Regions from separate parts of the Homo sapiens genome. Here region 2 is linked to region 1. The links come from fine-mapping of genetic effects on gene expression. A gene starts in region 1. The other region holds a variant in brackets. All regions are shown on one strand. Distances are between the middles of the regions. Region 1 holds the start of AGTPBP1 (ATP/GTP binding carboxypeptidase 1). Region 2 overlaps AGTPBP1 (ATP/GTP binding carboxypeptidase 1).

Region 1 (5,389 bases):
AGCCACCAGGAATTTGCGCCTTACACAAATAGGGAACCTGGCCCCATCAGCTTGCATGTAAAAGCCCCTGCATTCAACTGTGAAGCGGGCAACTGGGAACCTGCTTTCAGGATCCTTCTCTTTGCTGAGAGCTTTCCTTTTGCTTAACAAATTCTACTTCACTCACTCTTCAAGTGTCCGTGTACCTGATTTTTCCTGGTCTTGAGACAAGAACCTGGATCTAGCTGAGCTAAGGAGGAAACAATCCTGGATCAACATGGTTTATTGCCATGTGAAGATAATTTATTTTCTTAGGTTCACAATGTATAGAGGCAGAGAATTAAGAGAATAATTTCACAGGGAATACACTCCATAGATGATGTTTATTAACTACATAGTGAGTGAGTTCCAAAACTATTAAAACCTAGTTGTTCAATTAAGATTGAAGCAGACCTCTGTGGAAAGTAAAGTCTGATTAAGGATTGAGGTGGGTGTGGTATTAATGCCTGTAATCTCAGCATTTTGGGAGGCTAAGGCAGGAGGACTGCTGAGCCCAGGAGTTTGAGACCAGCCTGGGTGACTTAGGGAGACCCCGACTCTACAAAAACAATTAAAAAAATTAGCCAGGTGTGGTGACGTGTGCCTGTAGTCCCAGATACTCAGTGGGAGGCTGAGGTAGTACGATTCATTAAGCCTGGGAGGTCAAGGCTGCAGTGAGCCATGATTGCACTACTGTATTACAGCCTTGGCAACAGAGTGAGAGTCTTGTCTCAAAAAAAAAAAAAAAAGAAAGAAAAAGAAAAAGAAAAAGAAAAACAACTGAGGTGTACCTTTACCTTTTGGAGGCTGAGGTTCTCGGGAGAGATGGTGTCCAACATACAGGAGATCGGTGAGGATATGCAAGGTCCCACGATGCTAGAGGGCTGTGCCAGTGTTGGTGGACAGGCTTCAAAGCTTAAAGGCTAACAGGGTGTGGCCCTGTTGCAGCCTGAGCTGGTAGCGTTCAGGGAAGTGGCTGACAGAGCACGCGATCTGCCACCCGCTGAGCTCTCAAAGTATCTTGCAAATTCTTGAGTTTATATGTATTTCGAAATCCTGTAGTTGAGGTCAGTAACATATATATGGTGTTTGATAAGGTGTAACGTCACATTAGCTAGGAGAGGTGAAGTTTATTTCAACTTCATACACGTGGGATCTGATGAAGAGTGATGTCACATTCCCAGGGGGTGGGGGAGTAGCTCTAAGTTCTTAATTACCGCAAAACATAAATCACTCACTCTTGTGGCAAACTATGTGATTGGAATCATTTCAAAGCTATGTAATGCTGCTATTTATCTTGTGTGGGTTAATCTCCTGGGTCTGTGTTGTGGTCATCAAACTATGCTAACAGTGCTTGTGAAAGTGGGATTCAAATTCCACAAACACACACATCCACATAATATCTTCCTATATTGCAGGTTGACTCATTTAGAAACATGTTCTTTAAGAAAAGTTTCAGGTATATTACATACATATTTAGCATTATTGTAAAATTATTACATTATTATTGGGTATTTTCAGATAATACGTTTCTGATTGGGTGGTTTGGGGTGGTGGTTGTTTCAAAATTATTTTAAATACCGTAACCTATCTTTTAGTGCTCACGATGAGGGAAACTACGATGTTTATAAAATGGCAGTTTCTTGTTCATCTGAATAAAGACATCTACCAAGGGCAAACTGTAAGAAGCACTGTGGTGTACCTTGGGTTACTTTTTGAATTGCTTTCACACCTGCTTAATTTTATTTGAACAAGATCATAAAACAAAACAAAAATCTCACAGTTCTCAATGCATTCCCTTATCTAGTTGTGATATTACATTCCTTACCATAAACAGTAGCAAACATGTTCTTGTGCAACGTGAAAAAGTAAATGATGTCAGTATTTATTTGCAATACATTGCAGTACACTGAAGTACAGTCAAAACAGAAGGGGGTGTATTAGTAATTTCTCTGACACATTACTTTGGCTCAGATAAAACATTCCGCCTTTGCCTTCAGTAGCCAACTTAGCATTACCGTTTTGATTATATGCAGGCACTTTTTCAAAAAACAGTAAATCAGCATGCTATTTTGTTCGCTGCAGCACTAGGCATCTAATTTACTGAGATTTGGCCACAAGGTGCAATCCTGTTGTTTTCTGGGAGCCCGATTGTAGTAACAGCATGTCCCTTCCAGCCTCTTATTATGGACCCTCCTTGAGGTCAGGAAAGGTCTAAGCTTTACCGCAGTCCCCAGCGTTTGATGCGACCCCGGGATCACGTGGGGAGCTTTAAGAACCCTTCCTAAGAAAGTGACTGATTGATGGCGGGGGAGGGGGTGGGCGCGGGCTTAGTTCCGGGAAAAGGCTGGGGCCCTCGTTGGGAGTGTACAGAAAGATGACTTGAAGAACGTGGGGAGTCGCTCGCAGTTCGGTACGGAGGGGCGGTGGCCGGGGCTGCTGGGTACAAGGGACCGGCAGCGCGCGGAACACCCGCCCCTAATTCCCGCTCCCGTGCGCGCTCCGCCCCCACGCGCGCGCTCCCTCCCGTCAGGCGCGCAGAGAGGCGGGGCGCAGCGCGCACGGAGGTAACAAGGGACGCGGCGGGAAGAGGGCGTGCGCTCCGCCCCGCCCCTTTCGCGGCCTCGCACGCCCCGCCCCCACTCCCTGCGCGTGCTGGGAGCCGGCTGGCAAGGCGTGCGGTGGGCGGGGCGCCGCGCTGACGTTGCCCGGGATGCGGACAGGTTCCGCCGCCTCCAGCGCCGCCGCCGCAGCTGCCGCCGCCGCCGCCTCCGCCTCGCCTGCCACCGGGGTTTGTATGAAAACACCGGGCGGCGGGCGGCGAGGGATCCGCCGTGATCCAGGTGCTGAGCCGGGTGCTGCGGCTCTGCGCGGTCCCCGCCAGCGCCCCATCCTGAGCCGGTGAGCGCCCTGCTGCAGTCCTCATGTCCCGGCCGGCCGTCCCTCTGCTCTCCCCGGGCCGCGGGAGATGCGAGCGACGGCGCCCGGGGGTAGGAGGGGCGACCCCGGATCCCTGCGCCCCTTACCTGACGGGTTGTGTAACGCATGTTACACATGTGACGCGTGAGGGGAACGCACTCGGTCTTGAGGGAAAGCCCTGACGGGGTGGGGCTTTGACTGGGTCTGGAAAACGCCTTCCCCAGTCCCCGGACCCTCGGTGGATCCCCGTCCCAGACCTTGCGGAGGGTATCGGGCGCGGTCTCTGGGCGGAGGCCGCCCTTTCTGCTCAGCCCTTTCTCTCGGGCCCGAGCTCGCGGCGCCGCGGGGAGTCCAGCCGAGGGGCTGCAGGGCCGGGGGCGGGCGCGCCCAGCCCCGCTCTCCCCCGCCCCAGTGGTAGCGGGCCGCTGAATCGCGGGCCCCTGTGCTTCGAGAATTCTAGCGTTCCCGACTGAGCGCCAGCAAGGTGGGATTTGCTGTGACATCGGCGATGGGCACGTTTGCTTCCTCTCGCTGGGTGGTTTGAGCTGAAGTGTGTCTTCTGTTTACAACTTGTCGCCTTGAGCGTTTGGTTTGAACCTGAATCAGATCACCCTGGATGACAGTGCAGAGTTTCCTTAGTGTCTTCCTTCCTGAATTGCGGGTTCTCAATTGCAAGTGTTCAAGGACTGTTGTAACCCAAAGGCTTGCTCGACTCTACCGTTGTTTTACCCCTTGTGCGGTATAAACCTCTTACGAGCACCAGGGCAATTGGAGTTGGTTGGGTTCCTTTCTTGGGCGTTTACTCATTGTAGAATGGAGTTTTCATGCATCATAGTGTAATCGATGTGAATGTTGATAATTTAAAGCCCATTTCCCGTTTTAACATAGCTTACTCAAGTGCCTGAAGATAGCGGAAATTTTCTTTGGCAGTATTAATTCTATGTGGGTTTTTTCCTTCAGGTGTTTAACATTGTAGTTGTGTTTAATTACAATGCATGACAATTTGTAGTTAGAAAGGACCTTAACAGTCTTCTTAATCGGTCATTTTCACTTACCTTTTATGTCCGTTTTTTAAGCTTTATGTAAATCAAATTATCCTTTGTGAACTTCTGAATTATTCTTATAAACTGGTTGTCTGAGAAAACCGGAAAGTTATTTTTGTAATTGTATTGTGGAATGTTTTTAGTTCAGTAGGCCAAAAAAGAAATGATTTATTTAAGGAACTTTAAATGGTGCTTATTTTAAAACATGTGCCAAATGTCAAAACCAAACAAAACTCTGAAAGATCTGTATTTCCTATGTAGAATTACTGCGAAATAATAAGTCGTGCCTTACCCACTGTTTCTCATCATGCAGGCAGAGTTCTAATATGACTTGCTCTTTTTCCCATTCCACTTCTCTTAAGTTAAATTCTATGGTGAAGTTACAGGTTCATTTTTAATGATCACAAAACTCTGCCTTGAATTGATTAATCACATAATTACAACTGCAGACTCACTCTGAACTCGGAAATGAAGTGGATAGGCTTAAAACTACCCTCGTATTTGGCCAACATTGCAAAGCATTTAAATCTATTAATTAAACTTTTGTAGAAGCAATTTTTATAAAGCTTTTCCGAATTGAGGCATTCTTCTCTTTAGAAAAGTCTGGCTAGGCTGCTATATAATAATGGTTTTACTTCCATTAGCAGAAGGAAAAGAGGTCCAACAGTTATGAAATTTTGTAATTTGTATTTTACTTTTTTTTTTTTTTTGAGACGGAGTCTCACTCTCTCGCCCAGGCTAGAGTGCCAGTGGTGCGATCTCGGCTCACTGCAACCTGCCCCTACCGGGTTCAAGCGATTCTCCCGCCTCAGCTTCTTGATTATAGGCGCGCGTCACCACGCCTAGCTAATTTTTGTGTTTTTAGTAGAGACGGGTTTCACCATGTTGGCCAGGCTGGTATCGAACTCCCAACCTCAGGTGATCCACTAGCCTCAGCTTCTTAAGGTGCAGGGATTACAGGCGTGAGCCACCAAGCTTGGCCTGAATTTTTTTTTTTTTTTTTTTGAGACGGAGTTTCGCTCTTGTCGCCCAGGCTGGAGTGCAGTGGCACGATCTTGGCTCACTACAGCCTCTGCCTCCCGGGTTCAAGCGATTCTCCTGCCTCAGCCTCCCGAATAGCTGGGATTACAGGAGCACACCACCACGCCCGGCTAAGTTTTTGTTTTTAGTAGAGACGGGGTTTCACCATGTTACCCAAGCTCGTCTTGAACTCCTGACCTCAGGTGGTCTGCCCACCTCGGCCTCCCAAAGTCCTGGGATTACAGGCGTCCGCCACCACGCCCGTCCTGGCCTGAATTTTTTTAAACCTCATCCAAAGTATTCATCTTCCCAAATCTGCTTTTCTTGCTTGAAGTCCCCCACTATCTGAAAGTTGAACAGTGCGTGAATAGCAATGGATGCACCTGTCA
Region 2 (5,389 bases), 96 kb after region 1:
ATGACCAACTGCCGTTAGGGCATAAGTATAAATCAACCCAGGTTACCATGTGAAATATGAATATTTATTTTTTGCTATCTAAGAATTTGAGGTGATTTGTTTTTATATTTGTACCTGTATTAGTTAGGGTCGACTAAACTGCTGTTACAAAGAGACCCAGTAGCACAGTCCCTCAAGCAACAGCAGTAATAAACATTTGTGTAACACATACTCTGCCTGGCACTTTACGTATATTAACTTCTCTAATGCCCACAGAAACACTATGAGTAGATATCTCCATTTTATAGACAAAGAAACGAAGACAAAGAATTGATGTAACTTGCTCAAGGTCAAATAGCTAGTAAGTTCGGGAGCTAGGATTTGAATTCAGGTATTCTGTTTCTAGAACCCCTGTGCTATCCTGCTACAACATGGAATTTTTTTCTTTTCCTGTTTGTTGGTCACCTTCCACCCGTATGCTGTCTCTCTCACCTCTTAAAATTGAATTAAGCCATTCTTGTCTTGAAAATTCTCAGTGCCTATCTTCTTTATATTAAAAGTCAGTACTACTTGGCCTACTATGTTACATCCTTCATTTTTTAATTCTTTATTTTCCTTTCAGTACTTTCATAAGCATACTCTTCATCCTAGTCATACCTTTTGTTATTTTCTAAAGATATCATTTCACTTCCTTATTTTAGTAGTATTATTTCCTCTTCTTAGAAGCCACACTCACCCACCATTACATTCACATAGAAATCTGTTATACTTTCTACAAGATACTGCTTAAATATCACCTATTCTGTGAAGTGGTCAGCATCAAGCCCCTTGTCTCCAAGCAGTTTACAATTAGTTGTTGCATTTCTCGTTTTCCCATAGCATTTTGGAGTTTATGGCTTCATTAGCATTTATCTTTGGTATTATAATTACGTGTTTACTCCTTTCTGCTCTTTGACCTCATGAGCCACCTCATTCCTCATTTTCCCATAGTATTTTGGAGTTTATGGCTTCATTAGTGTTTATCTTTGGTATTATAATTACATGTTTACTCCTTTCTGCTCTTTAACCTCATGAGCTACCTGAAGGAAGAGACTATATTTACACCAAGCATGTCCAATATGCTGCCCATGGGCCACATACAACCCAGATTGACTTTGAATGTGGCCCAACAGAGATTCATAAACTTTCTTTTTTTTTGAGACAGAATTTTGCTCTTGTTGCCCAGGCTGGAGTGCAATGGCGCGATCTTGGCTCACCGCAACCTCCGCCTCCCAGGTTCAAGCAATTCTTCTGCCTCAGCCTCCCGAGTAGCTGGGATTACAGGCATGCACCACCATGCCCAGCTAATTTTGTATTTTTAATAGAGACAGGGTTTCTCCATGTTGGTCAGGCCAGTCTCGAACTCCCAACCTCAGCTGATCTGCCTGCCTTGGCCTCCCAAAGTGCTGGGATTACAGGCGTGAGCCACTGCGCCTGACCTCATAAATTTTCTTAAAACAATATGAGATTTGTGTGTGTGTGTGTAATTTTTTTTTTTTAAGCACACCAGCTATCGTTGGTATTAGTGTATTTTATGTGTAGCCCAAGACAGTTCTTCCTCTTCCAGTGTGGCCCAGGGAAACAAAAAGATTAGACAACCCGATTTACACATCTTTTGAAAAAATTCCCAGCATATAGCACAGTATGTGGCACATGACTGTCATTGAAACAAATAGGGGGTCAATTATAAAGGGATGAAGTGAGTCATTGAAATTTATAATAAATAGAAAACAGGATGTTTCATTCAGGCTATCGCAACATAAGACATTATTTTTAAAAACTGAGAACATTAGTAAAATTCACCTTTACAGTGCTTTCCAAATTTTGAAGCACTTTCTTATATGGTCCCATGGGTTTGTCAACAGCTGGGACAGCCTTAGAGAGATGTTAAATAAGAAATCTCATTTACTTTTTCTCTGGTGATTGAAATACTTTATATAAGTCACATTCTACCATTGGCTATGCATATTGTAGAATGCTTACCTCTGACCTACTTATAGCACATTTTGTATCATAGTGGATGACGTAGTAGATGAAAGTGATGACAACGATGATATTGATGTAGAAGCTGAAAACGAAACTGAGAATGAAGATGACCTAGATCAAAATTTTAAGGTTAGTATAAATTTCTGTAATTAGTTAGCTTTATAAATGATATACTACAGTTGTAAAACAAAAATTGGGTAAATAAATATATATGTAATTTTAGGTTTTACTTTGTCCACATCTTTTTACCATGAATGACTATGCAATTAAAGGGGTAGATGATATTGGTTTAAATCCACTGGTCTGAAAAGGACCTTAAAGTAACTTATTTTCACTCTCTCTGACCAGAAAGATTTTATCTAACCTTTCTGCCTTAGATTTTGAAATCTACAAAATTGAAGGAAAGTGATCTGAAACTCTCTTGTGGCAACTTATTTCAAAATGCATTATTATCCTTTGTCAGCAGTCTTTTGGGGATACAAAAACAGTAGGAAAATATTCTATAATGGATTTGTTTTTGTGAGAATTAGTGTTTGCATAATGATTCTTAGGTTTCAGTTAATTGAACAAGGAAGTGAAAAAAGTATTATTGAGAAAATATAAAATTATTGTCATATTACATAAGATGTTAGGTAAAGGTGGCAAGTAAGTTTTCGGAGTTTCATTGTACCTCTGGAAGCCTAGAAAGTCTGTATTTTGCTTTATTTATAGAGAGAGGACTACTCTAGCATCTGTAGAAAAATGGTCTCTTTTTTTAGCTGTTTAGCCTATTGCTGGGTTTTTTTTATGGGGGAGGAGGGATTAATTTGACTCTTTCCTGTTTGGACCAATTTTTGTCTTGCAAAACTGTATCAAAATTGGGGTACACTGAGTATTCGATTCACTTTGGAGATAGAAGTTAAGATATTGGAAGATTTCTGTCTTAATAGATACAGAACCCATTTTATAACCAGCAAATGTGATCACCAAGGTAAGCTTTGGCGAAACTGTCAAGTTAGCCAATCTAAACTACATCTATGTCCTGGCATCAGGTATTGCCCTTAATTATCTTGTCTCTTTAGTCTCCTTTAATCTGGGACATTTCTACAGATTTCTTTGTCTTATAACATTGACATCTTTGGAAAATGTAGTTGTTAGCTTGCATTATTCACTATTCACTGGGGTATCAGTGATTGCTCACGTTTTCCCTACTTTATCTTAACAGAGCAGTTATAGCAATAAGAACAAAAT[A/G]CATTTTATTATTGAACACTTAACTGTGGTAGTCCAAACTCTTTACATATACATAGTAACCATTAGATCCTTATAGCAACCCTATGAGGTAAATACAGGTTGTATAAGTACATAGAAAACAGAGGAAGAGAGAGGTTCTCAGTCTAGTTTATAAGAGGTGGAGCCAGGATTCAGAAAGCAGTCTAGTGGAATGTCCACTCTCTTTATCACTATACTGTACTAAAATATAATTTTTCTTCAAGAACTATGGAATTGTTGGCTTTTTGAGACTGCTGAGCTTTATTATCTTCTTTTTCTTTCCTACTGCTGCCTGCCTCTTACTCTCATTGACTTTACATTTAGACGTTACTTAATTTTTCCTTTTTTTATCTGAATCCTATTCCTTCATCCTTCAGGTGAACTGCTACATCATAGTGGGGGTATTATTTATTTGTGTTCTCTTATGGTTATAACTTTTTTTCCTGTGATTCCATTTTCTTTGTCCCAGATTTTTCAGAGTTTGGAGCATTTATAGAAACTGGTAGCTTCTAGAAGATTCATCTCCAGCTAGCCACAACTTGACCGTATATAAGTTTCAGTGCATTCTTTGTTCCTTCCTTAACTAGCAGAACTTTTAAGGAGTGGTAGCAGGTTGTTTTGTTTTTTTCTAATGAGTCTGTAAGTAGTCCTTCACTACTGTTTCTTCTTAAACCAAACACAAAATTCCCTGCTGTTGAGCTTTCGGAGTGTTGTAGTTTTCTTTCCCCATTATACCTGTTTTACAGGTAAAGCCTTTTTTTTTTTTTTCCTCTCCAAATAGCCACTATGTAAGGCCATATTTTCACAAAATAGTGTCAAATATTGAACTAGTATGTTTAGAGAAAAGAATATCTTTGTAAATTATTTTTTATTTTAGAAACATTATGTATTCTATTAGATGTTAAGAAAATTATTACATTATTGGTTCCTAAATGTATAATTTAAAGAGATTAAATTACATATTAATGTAATAATAAGTATACAATAATGATACAGTGATTAATATGATAACATTTAAATAAAATCAATCTCTATTATGCATATCAATGAGGAAAATCTTTTTCATTGGCTATGTAAATAATAGCTAAATTCCTGAATATGAAATAATAAGAAATACATAATATGTTTTTTTCTTTTAAACTAGTAGTTAATATGTGTAAGTATGGTCAGATACATGTATATAAAGTTTTTTAAGGATTGAAGCATAGTAAAATATACTTGTAAATTAGGCTGAAAAATAAGTAGCTTACTCTGGTAGTAAGTAAATACAAAATTAAAAATAAGTACCAACTGAAAATTATTAAATGGTATTATTATCTCTCTTCAGCCATAACAAAGATAATAATTAGTTTGTGTGAGGCCAGAGTCATTGAGGATCCTAGAAAATAGCTTGGGTAGTAGATAATCTGACATTTGCCCTCTTATCATGGGATTCATTAGCTCTTCTCTGAAGAGCATTTAGAACACATTGATCCTGGATACATATCTTGTTTCTCTGAGGACATACTTTTCCTTTAAATCCACCTGCTTTTTTTCCTAGAGAGACATGGAAATCATTTCTGGCTCTTGTTCCACTCCTGACTTTTTTCCCCCACTGAAAACAGAGTGAATGGTGACACTGAGTTTTTCTAAAAGAACTTTATTTCCCATGCACTCTAAGATTGTGTGATCATCATTAATCTGTATTGGGGCAGTGTGTGATGCTGGCTGACAGTGTGGTGCTTCAGAATCACTCTAACTGGTTTTTATCCTGGCTCCTGTCTTTGCAAGATGTGTAATTTTCAGCAAATGGCTTAACTTCTCCGTACCTCATTTTCCTCTTCAGTTAAATGGGGGTAACTTCATAGTGTTCTTATGCAGAATAAATTAGATAATAGATGTAAAATGCTTAGCATAGTGTTTCATTTATTTTCAGTGCTTAATGTTAGCTGTTTTATTATCACCATCATCATATATATGTATGTTTTTCATAATGGAGTCTTGATCTTTACACAAGTTTTTCTGTTTTGAGTAGCCAGAATACTCTGTTATATTAGAGTAACCATGACAAAAACAAAACAAAACTACCCAACAATAACACAACAACCCCAAAACAATAAGCAAATTTGAATTTAAGATAAAATTAATGCAGTATTTA

The links. PIP is the estimated chance that this variant, and not a neighbour inherited with it, causes the effect.
Region 2: its variant is the best candidate, but not a certain one, in a credible set for the expression of AGTPBP1 in whole blood (INTERVAL, PIP 0.71).

Annotation. Positions count from the first base shown.
Region 1 is chr9:85,739,305-85,744,693 of GRCh38, reverse strand. AGTPBP1 (ATP/GTP binding carboxypeptidase 1) reads left to right here and starts at 2,740. Exons shown (of 26, transcript NM_001330701.2): 1 at 2,740-2,919. RefSeq lists silencers at 2,417-3,016, 3,087-3,406 and an enhancer at 3,577-3,726.
Region 2 is chr9:85,643,065-85,648,453 of GRCh38, reverse strand. It overlaps AGTPBP1 (ATP/GTP binding carboxypeptidase 1), which reads left to right. Exons shown (of 26, transcript NM_001330701.2): 12 at 2,036-2,133. Among named protein-coding and RNA genes, the nearest start is that of AGTPBP1, 96 kb to the left of the region's middle. The variant A/G (reference allele first, on the strand shown) is at 3,235.